Regions from separate parts of the Homo sapiens genome. Here region 1 is linked to region 2. A link means that fine-mapping ties the variant in region 2 to the expression of a gene that starts in the linked region. Tissue or cell type: whole blood. Region 2 holds a variant in brackets; the other region holds the start of a gene. All regions are shown on one strand. Distances are between the middles of the regions. Region 1 holds the start of CLIP4 (CAP-Gly domain containing linker protein family member 4). Region 2 has its middle 6.5 kb from the start of PCARE.

Region 1 (5,375 bases), 34 kb after region 2:
TTTGCATTTAAGCACTTCTGCTAGTTGAACTCCAATCTGGTGCCCCAATTCTGACAGTTGGGTGTCTCTCATGGTCCTAAGGGCCTAGGCCCCCTATACACTCACAAATTAGAAACTGATGATATTCCATCCCATATCCAGTCCATGTAAAAGCAGTGACCTTGTCTTCTTTTGCTATTTCCTCTAACCCTTTTATCATGGTCGGGGTCCTGAGAGCTGCTGACAGATCTTCCTGCTGCCGAGTGTCTGAATTCCTGAATGCTGCTCTATGCAGCCATTCTGGGTCTTTAATGCCCCCAAAGACAGCCTGTGTAGGTTAGCAAAGTAGTGAATCAACATAGGCCTTCAGATCAGACAGACTTAGGTTTGAATCTTATTTCTGCCCCTGGCTACATGGAGCAAGTCACGCAGCCTCCCAGAGTCTGCTTCTTCATTTGTAAAGTGAAGACAAGATTTCCATAGGTCAAGTGCCTTACAGTGGTCAGTGAGTAATGCCCTTTCTCCACACTGTGATGTTGACCAGTAAGTTGATCACCTCCTGACGCTGTGGATTATTGCTATACTTTTCAGGAACTTTGTGTCTCCAGATAGAATTGAATCTCAGCAGCTACAGTTGGTCCACATCCCCATGTGCCTTCCCACCCCAATGAATAGTTCAAGTTCCAAGTTCTGGCCACATATCATTGTCCAGTCTCACTCTGGTTAACTGGGCAATACCTGGTTCTAAAGCTTGTATGTCACGAGGTATTCTAGGAAGCATGACTCCAACGAGCACTTGCATTCTTGATGATGGTATAAAGAAGTAACGTCAGATTTTTGAACAAAGGCAACTAAGTGAGTGGGAGACTCTGGTGGCTTGGTATCCTGGGAATTTGCCTATGTATCATACAGTGTTTGGGTGTAGCAGATAAAGCCAGTGGCCTGGCTGGTTCTAACAGAGATCTTTATTATAACTAAGAACAACTGAGCTAGCCATGCCTTGTCACCTACTAATAGTGGTATTTCAGATGGATAATTTAAATCAGCAATAAAAGTGAACTGTATACGTTTGGAAACTTCACCAATAGCTACTCTGTTACACACAGATCTTTATGACTTTCTGTGGTTCAATGACAATTGGCCTCATTTATAGGTGCTTGAAGCCAACCAAGGGCAGATTGCCTTCCTTCTTTTAACCAGCTAAAGAGATGGGTGGGTCAGACAAGAAGAGGGTATGATGAAAGCAGGGAAAGGGAGGTGGACTCTTCAGAGGGAGGAGGAAGTATCCGTGTCACATTATCTCTGAGAGCACTCGCAGATGCTGAGCCTGCAGAGACAGAGAAACTGGCAGCTGACCAGGGTCAGGGATGGTCATGTATTCAAATATTGTGGGTTTTAGTCAAGTGTGCTCCACCCGATTCAACAATGTGATGTGACTGCTCCTAGCAACTATTTTGATATGGTGAATGTTGTTAAGCATAGGACCTAAGAAGAGGTGGCAGTCTCTTTCCTCTCCGCACTTGGCAGGCCACCCACTCATTCCTGATAATCACATTTAAGAGAGCTCTGGACAAGCTGGAATGCATCCAAGAGAATCCCTCAACATGCTGGTGAGTGGGATTGTGACCAGGTCATATCAGGAGTAGCCTAAGGGACAGGTAATGTGTGTCTTGGATGAATTGGAGTCAGACTTAAGAGTCCCCAGGGCAGAAACAAAATCCAGTGAGGGAGAGATGCAGGGAGCTGGATTTTAGCTCCTAAGGTAGAAAATTTCCAAAAGGCTGATCAAAGATTAAATGGCTGCCTTAAAAGGTAATGAGTTCCTTGTTAGTGGAGGTGTTCAACCACTGCTTGGTGGGAAGACACTGTAAGGAGGATTCAGGCAAGTGGGAAGGGGGCTTTTTCCAGTCCCTGAAATCAATGATTCTAACAGGAAAAGATGCTCCGGGGTGCGGTGAGCGCTTACCTCTGCTCTTGCAGAGACACTGACAGACGTTCATTCAACATCTGTTCCTGCCAGGCACTGTGCGCGCTGAACACAGAAGTACAGCCTCTATGAAGCAGCCGCTGTAGGCCTCAGAGACAGCTGATAGATGTAACACTGTTGTCTCCATGTTTCAAACTTCGGTCATGGTCTTACTAGGTCTCCTCATTAAGGGGACTCACTATGTGTCCAGTAACGCTTTCTTGTTACCAGATGACAGAGAGTCAGGCTGTCAGAGTTCACGACTTTAGGTGCACAGTTTCACCCTGTCTGGTCCTTGGGAGACGGAGAAGGGGTCAGGAGAAAACGTGGGTGAAGAGGCAGCAAAGCCGCAGGAGATATGAACTAATTGCTCAACGTGGGTGTAGCACGGATTAGGCCTTTTACAGCAAGCGCTGCCAGCAGGGAACTGGTGGATGTACTCTTGACCACGCTCGGCTGGACTCTGGGGAGCCCAAGACGGGTAAGACTAGGTCCCCGGCCCCAGCAGCTGGTGGGGGCGCCGCAGGTTAGAGACGTGAGGCCGCGAGGCTGAGGGCTGTGAAGGCGGTGGGCACGCACGGCGTGCCGGGGCCGCCTGGCTTCGCGGCGGGGGAGGTAACACTGCGACACCCCGCAGACGCTGTCAGCCGGGGTCGCGGCCCCGCGTGCGCCCGATCATCTGACTGCTGGGGAGTGCGGGGGCGCGGGAGCCAGGCGAGCCAGCGCAGGCGCGCGCTGCCTCCTCCGTCCCCACCGAGTCCCCAGCGCGTGCGCGGGGCCGTGGCCGAGGCCTGCGCGCCGCCCGGCCGCCTGCACTGCGCGCGCGCCCACCCCGCGTGGGAGGCAGCGGGAGGGGCCCGGAGAGGTGTGGAGCGGCGCGGCGGGAGGCTCCGTGGGCGGCCACGGGAGACAGCGCCGGCGGGAGCGCGCCTCTCGGCCTTTCCTCCGCGCCCCCGCGTCCCCAGCCGGCCGCTCCGAGAGGACCCGGAGGAGGCAGGTGGGCCGGGGGCGCGCGGGGCCCCCCCGGGCCGCGGGCTGGCCGGCGGCGGGGTTGGGGCCGGGGTGGGCGGCCCTGGGGGCCCGCGGGGAGGTCAGTGGCCCCGGGAGGGTCGCGCAGAGGCGCTGGGGGCTGTGGAAGCCCCGCGGCCGCCTCCCGTGGGCACCGGTGTCGCTGGCCGCGGGGAGGCCTTCTCGGGGCGGAGCGGCCCACCCGGCGGGGATGGGGACTCCTCGTGGCGGCCGCTGACGGACGGCCCAACTTTAGGTTGAGGGGCGCGGGGTGTGCGGGACCCGGCGGCGGAGCTGGGCTCTGGGCCACGACCGCCAGCCGCGGCTGCCCCGAGAGTCCCCGCACGCGCAGTGGCTTTCCAACGCGGCCTCTTCCCATTTCTCACTTGACTCCCCTTGCGCATTAAATTGTCGAGAAACCTTTGGCCAGTGGGTCTTCAAAGCTAAACCAAATGGCTGTCCTTGCAGTCCTTGGCTACCTGAGATCCCTTAATTCTGAACCATCCGCACCTGGGAGGGGAAGTTGAAAGGAGCGCTGGAGCTGAGCCCGCATCCTTAAGGATCCCATTCACTGCTTATGATGGTAGAGCTTTGAATTAGATGTCAGGCTGTTCACGTCATCCAGACTCTGGTTTTCAGCTCTGTGCTGAGACAGTGTTTTGATACGTATCAGAGGATGATGTTCCTATGGGACAATAACTTGCTGTATGTTCTGAGATACTAGACTGCGTTCATATTGTAGCACCATCATCGTATAAAACGGGCGCCTTTGAAAGGTTTCAGTAAACACCTTCCTCAGGAACATCCGCCAGCACTTAAATTGTACTTCACTTTCACTTTGACGTTTGTTGTTTGTGAATCTTGTGCACAATTTAAAGTGAGTCGTCTAAACAGCACAGGATCACGTGGTGCGGGGCATTGAGCAACTGGGGAGGAAAGCAGAGACTTGAACCTGCTGGAGTCTAGTTGGTCTGCGTTTTTATGTTGGAGAACCATCCTGGTTCCAGCTTATTTTGCTTTCGTAAATATGATGCATTTTTTAAATGCTTTCATTTGATACGGTCTATCTGGACTGTAAGATTGAGTCTAGCCATGCATGGAATGTGTTTACTTCTGTTTTGTAGAAGATTTAGCCCATGGTATTCTATTTGTAGGATTCATTTCAGACATTTTGTGTTTACCACATACAGTCCCACCAGCAAGGGCTTTTAAAAAAGTGACCTATGTTGTCTCTCATAGCTTATGACAACTCCAATTTTGACACGTGTTTGAAACTAGTGATCTTTAGATTATATAAAATCAACTTCACTCTTTCTCCCTGTTCAAACCTCAAACTCTGGTTACTTTTAGGCTTACTGCTCCCTTGTTAATTATTTATAATGAACTATGGAGCTATAGGCTTGCTTTAGTGTGTTAACCTTTATTTGTGTCTTGTTTCAGGCATTTGTATATTGTTTTCTCATCTGGAGAGTGAGCTGCACTGTTTTCCTTCAGTGCTGTTTAGAAGAGCTTTCGGAGACCAGAAACATGTTCTTTTTGCATTACCCAATATGGTAGCACTAGCCACATATAGCTTTTGACCACTTGAATGGGGCTAGAGCAGTGGAAGCACTGAAATTTTAATATTTTTTTTCTTTTCCTTTTCTCTCTCTCTTTTTTTTGTTTTTGTTTTTTTTTTTTGAGACGGAGTCTCGCTCTGCTCTGTCACCCAGGCTGCAGTGCAGTGGCCTGATCTCTCCTCACTGCAATCTCTGCCTCCCAGGTTCAAGCGATTGTTCTGCCTGAGCCTCTCGAGCAGCTGGGATTACAGGCGCCTGCTACCACACCCTGTTAATTTTTGCTGTGGGGTTTCACCATATTGGCCAGGGTGGTCTCGAACTCCTGACCTGAAGTGATCTGCCCATCTCGGCCTCCCGAAGTGTTGGGATTACAGGCATGAGCCACTGCACCTGGCCAATTTTTAAATTAATTTAAATAGTCACATGTGGCTAGTAGTTAGCTGGTCAGATGCCACAGCTTTAACTTATTAGTCTCCAGGAAGCCTTCGTTGACCCTCTTGAATCTGTGCTTTCATAGGACTCAGCTGTCCTTGGTCATAGCACTTACTACTTTCAACTTTCTGGTAGGAATCAACACTAGGCTGTAATTTATATGAGGGCAAGGACAGATCTGGTTTCTTTACCTTTGCATAGCTTAGAACTTAGTAAGAAAAACTGAATAAATATTTGTTAAATGCATAAATAGCTTTTTCAGGGCAGGTATTTCAATTTTTAATTCTCTCTAAGGCCAACTAAGTGTTCAGTACTGTAAATACCTGTTTAGTAGATTGTACAGATGTTATGTAGGTAGCAAATAAAAGGATCATTGGAGTTATGCTTTAAATACTTACGTGGTGAGATTGGAATCTCAGGAGAATGATGAC
Region 2 (5,375 bases):
AGACTGAAAGTCATTTAAACAATCTAAGAAATGTTTTACCCCTCAAAGTCTATCAGCCTCACCAAAGGGGCTCTCCTGTACCTTAAAAGCCAAGAAAAATTTCCCACTAGTCAAGGCCTACCTAGGACATACCTGGTCCTCCATATCTGAAGGAGTGCTTTTTGCAACACAGTTCCTTGGTCTGGATGTGAGATGAACAGGTAACAGAGAGATAAGCACGCATCTATTGTGGTGAGCTGGCGGGGAAGGAGGCCATGTTTGTGTCCCACGCACTTCATTAGGCACTCACTTTACATTTATCTTTTCAGAAGCTGGCCTTCCTTGCTTTGCTTTGGAGGATCATTAAAAGAACCATTCTGGCTACTGTTATATACCTTAGAGCAATCCATCCAGAGTTGCTCGTGGGATACACAATTCTATCAGAAACCAACATGTGATATCCAGGTGTCTGCCCTAAGTAGCTTTTGATTTGGTGATGATAGTAGAAACACCTGCCTGTTTTTCTTGAATCTTAGTGTGCATGGCGTATGGTCTGGATCAGTCATCACACAGGTACATTGTACCTCTGGAGGTTGACTCTTTAAACCTTTAAGATGCCTCTAAGTATCCTCCAAAGCAAATTTCATGTACACAAGGTAGTGTATGTTTAGAATCAAAGTATCCTAAATGTACCACAAGCTTGAAAAACATTTATCTAGTTTTTTTGTATGATAGAAAGTGTTTTATTGAAATAGATTCAATTCTTACATATAAATTAGAGTTTTTTTTTTAAAGGGTAGGCTAACTTTTGTAACTAACAATCCCCAAATATCAGTGACTTGGCACAGTAAGAGTTATTATTGTTTATACAATGCCAGTGTAGGTGTTGGGACATTCTCTTAAACAGCCCTACTCCACATGGTGACTCAGGGATTTAAGCCCTTCCATCTTGGAACATGAACATCTTCAATACATGACTTACAGGGCGGAAAGGGAAGAGAGTATGGGGAAGGTAGGTCAGATCCTTGACTGTCTTTGCATGGAGTTGACACCCATCATTTCTGCTTACATTCTGATGGGCAGGACTTATCACATGGCCCTACTTAGATGCAAAAAGGGCTGGGAAATGTAGTCCACAGGCCCTTTCTTCATTCCTACCTTTTCTTCTACTCCCCAAGCCTGTGAAATATCCTCAGATCTTTGCCTTTGTCCCCTAGGTATGAGTCTCTCCACCTGTAACAGAGGATTGTCCCTGTCCTCTGGAACTTAGCTCTGGTGTGAAGACAAGATAGCTTGGGGAAAGAAATGCTAGGCTTTGAGTCAGAACACAGCACACAGGGAAGGAATTAATTGAGAATTCTTCCCAAACTGTAAGACCACTGCTCAGCCATGTTATCAGAAGAACCTACGGGAAAACTGTGTCAATGTCCTTATGAACTGTGGGATGGTTTGCTAATTCCCTGTAGGGAAATAAGAGCAGACTCGAATTTCTTGACTTTTGACTGGTTGTTTATTTGTGTATTTACTTTTACATGTATGTACTGTCATGGGATCCTTAGGGTGTTGCTTTGCCAGCTGGAAACCTCTGTGGCTAGCAGTGCCTCTGTTTCAGTTTTGCTCATGCCTGCTGGGCTCCTTCTGCTCACTTGGCCCATCAGGTTGCGCGTGGCTCCTGCTTTCAGCCCAGATCCCATACCTGCCAGGGTGTGTGAGTGAGCAAGTGCAGGGTCCAGCCACTGCACACAGCCAGGTGTGCCGGCTGTGGTGGGGCAGGCAGCTCCAGGCGCCCGCACAGGTGCCGGCTCTGTGCAAGGCTGCAGCTGGACCAGACGTACTGCAAGCAGCTTCTGCTGTGGGCACCAGCATGTGGACAAGGGGAAAGCAATAACACCAGAAAGGTCAGATACCAGGAACCACAAAGCCCCAAAGAGGGAGTTACAGCATGTCATAGCCATGACTTGGGGATCCCTGAGGTCTGGGCTCCCAGAAGGGCTGCAGCTCTTCTCTCCTTCTCGTCACTCACAATGTGGTGAGTGGGGGGCATGTTTCAGGCCTGTTTGTGTTACAGCTCTTTCAGTCCCACCATTCAGCTGGTCCTGAGTTCTTGTCCCATGTCCAGGAAGAATGAGGCACGTGGATAACTGGAGAGTGAGCAAGATAGTAAGGAGCTTCATTGAATGACAGAATAGCTCTGAGGAGACCCGAAGTGAGTAGCTCGTTTCCACAGGCAGGCCATGCTGATGAGTGTCCAGGTCTCAGTGGAGAGGAGACCCATAGTGGGCAGCTCCTTTCCACAGGCAGGTCATCCTGACCAGTATGCAAGTGTGGCTGAATCCAGGGATTTTATGGGCTCAGAAGGGAGGAACTGTGTGATGATTGGTCCATGGGTGGCCATGGGTGTGCCTGGAAAAAGCACCATAAAGTTTCGCTCTGGGTCATGGACACCACCTGGGACTGAAAGCCTGGCCCCCAGGCTTCAGGCTGTCCCTGGTTTGAAAGTGGGGCTTCACTGGGGACCCACCCCTTCCCTCCTAGGAACCTGTCTGACTCCTGCCACCATCAACATGACCTCCATGGCACCCAGGCTGTTCACACCAAGGGGCACCTGCAGGCTTGCGTTAAGCCTCCCTCAGCCCTCCTGGCCTCCCTTCCTGAGCTCGTTGGTGCTCAAAGTTTCAGAAGGTGCCAAGGCAGTGGAGGATGTCTGGCATGTCAGTGCTGCCCTGAGCGTGTACACACCTAGCCGGGCCATGACAGCACCCAGGCTCAGGCTCTGAAATTGGAGCGGGTGCCAGGAGTTGGGAGAGGCCAGGGAGTAGGAGCAGGCACTTCCAAGCCTGTGGGAGCTTGGGGCTAGCCATGCCCCTGAGAGTACAGGGATGCCCGGGTCTGGAGCTGTGTTGATGTGGCTGCTGCTGCACTGGGGAGTGAGGTGCTCTTGACCAGCCAACTCGGTAGGGGGCGGGACTCCCACCTATTACTGCCCTCCTCTGGCTCGGTGGAACGCATAGCCCCAGCTTCACCTTCCCCACTGCAGCTGGCATCCCCACAGCAGCTGCTCCAAATAGGCCACCGCCACCATCAGTACCCTGGGCTTTGGAAAGATA[G/A]TGGCTGCTACTTGTACAAACTTCTCAAAATAGACTCTTCACTCTAGTTATTGCTTATGAATTTGTGAGTAGACATTTGTGTGTGTGGCAAATTTGAGGAAAGACATTGGGTCATATGAATTCATCATAGTGGGACATAAGTCAGAACTGAGTTTCACAATTTCCCAGGGTTATGCAACAAGAGTCAGACTAGCTCAGAGTCTTTGAAATATTGTAGACAACTCAAATATTGTGTGCATTTTTCTCAGAAAAAGTTACAGTATTTAAATTTTTATTGTATTATAACTTCGTCTAAAGTCTGCTCTTAGACTGAAGAGCAGATAGCAGATTCAGTTCCCCTTTACATTTATCCATAAGGATGGTTTGTCTGTGCTGAACGGGGGAATGGGACATCAACCACTGCTTATAACCCTGCTTATAACTTTTTAATGTTATTGCTGGGAAATTTCATTCCTGCTTGCTCATGACTTAAAAAAAAATTCTATTTATACATTTAGAATTACCATGACAAAAATAGGCCCCCTCCCCTAAAAAAAACCCATAAGTATTCATAATAATATTTAAAGGAGATAAATTACCCAAGACTGACTCTGAAGAATAACCCAGGGAGGTGATGATTAAAATACTTCGGCCTTGTGAAAGGAGCATATCTTTGGACCAGATTAATATCCTTTTGGCATTTATGCAGAACAGGGAGTTGATCTCTGTAGATTCTAATTTACAACAATGTCAACATTTAAAATAGACTACTAATAAAGACACCAAGAACAAACATGCCTCTAACCTGAGGTACATCAAATAACCCTTCTTTGGTGTTTTGACATTAAATGCGAATAAATAGAAAAAGGGAACCAATATTATGAACACATTTAAACTATGTTTAATAATAATTGTATGAGCAGCTCACATCATTAGCTTTTTTTTTTACTTTGTGCTGTTAGTGAGGTATAACTGACACATGTATTTAAAATATACAGTTTGATGAGTTTACACACACACATGCATCCATGAAACTTTTGCAGGACTTTTCCTTAGTTCAGTTAAAGACGGGGTTCTTTGTCCTATGGCCTTGAAAATTCAGGCTTGCAGACCATTGAGTAAGATGGGGTTTTATTGGGTAAAAAGAGAGAAAGGGGGGAAACAGACTCTCGCTAGACCAGAGTCCCTGCTAGAGCACTTCCCACCCACCGTTCGAATCCCAGGTTCCATACAGGAAGAGGAGGGACAGGGCTCCTCCCCGCTGCAAAGGGCATGAACTTCCCGAGGCTCCACCTCAGTGGGTAGGCTGGTTGGAGTTTCTCCAGGGACCCCCACCCACCTGGCTGTCTCAAAACCATCACCACAGTCAAGATAATAAACATATCCAACAGTCCCAAAAGTTTCCTCATGGCCCTTTGTAATCCCTCCCTATATACCCCTTCTCATCCACCTAGGCAATTGTTGATCATCTTTCTGTCACTATGGACTAGCTGGCATTGTTTGGGATTTAAAAATTTATTTTTGTAGAGAAAGGGTTTTACTTTGTCATCCAAGCTGGAGTGCAGTGGTGCCATCACAACTCACTGCAGTGTTGACTTCCTGGGCTCAAGTGACCCTCTCACCTCAGCTTCTTGAGTAGCTGGGACCACAGGCATGCACCATCATGCCTGGCTAATTTTTAAAGAGACAGGGTCTCGCTATGTTGTTGAGGCTAGTCTCAAACTCCTGGCCTCTAGTGATCCTCCCATCTTGGCCTCCCAAAGTGTTGGGAATATAGGCATGAGCCACTGTGCCCATCCTTGAATTTCATACAGATTTATTTTTTTGGTTTAGTTTCTTTTTCTCAGCATGGTTATACTGAGGGTCATTCATGTTACTGTATGCATCATTAGTTCAGACGTTTTCATTGCTGAGCAGGATTCACACATGATTAGCTTTTTTTTTTTTTTTGAGACAGAGCCTCACTCTCTCACCCAGGCTGAAGTGTAGTCACCCGATCTCAGCTCACCACAACCTCTGCTTGCCAGGCTCAAGCAATTCTCCTGCCTCAGCCTCCCGAATAGCTGGGATTACAGGTGTGTGCCACTACCGCCCAGCTAATTTTTGCCTTTTTAGTAGAGATAGGGTTTCACCATGTTGGCCAGGCTGGTCTCGAACTCCTGACCTGAAATGATGCATCTGCCTCGGCCTCCCAAAGTGTTGGGATTACAGGCGTGAGCCTCCATGCACCACCCCCCCCGCCACATGATTAACTTTTGATAGCTTGAAACTTTTAGAATTTGCCCAACTCCAGGCAATCAAAAATAATGA

The links.
Region 1: it holds the start of CLIP4, and the variant in region 2 is fine-mapped to the expression of CLIP4 in whole blood (TOPMed, PIP 0.98).

Annotation. Positions count from the first base shown.
Region 1 is chr2:29,112,724-29,118,098 of GRCh38, forward strand. CLIP4 (CAP-Gly domain containing linker protein family member 4) reads left to right here and starts at 2,692. Exons shown (of 16, transcript NM_024692.6): 1 at 2,692-2,942. It overlaps LOC105374386 (a long non-coding RNA gene), which reads right to left and starts at 2,021. Exons shown (of 3, transcript XR_007086265.1): 1 at 1,946-2,021. RefSeq lists silencers at 2,553-2,912, 3,103-3,342.
Region 2 is chr2:29,078,318-29,083,692 of GRCh38, forward strand. No RefSeq gene overlaps it. Among named protein-coding and RNA genes, the nearest start is that of PCARE, 6.5 kb to the left of the region's middle. RefSeq lists enhancers at 2,397-2,897, 4,668-4,907. The variant G/A (reference allele first, on the strand shown) is at 3,087.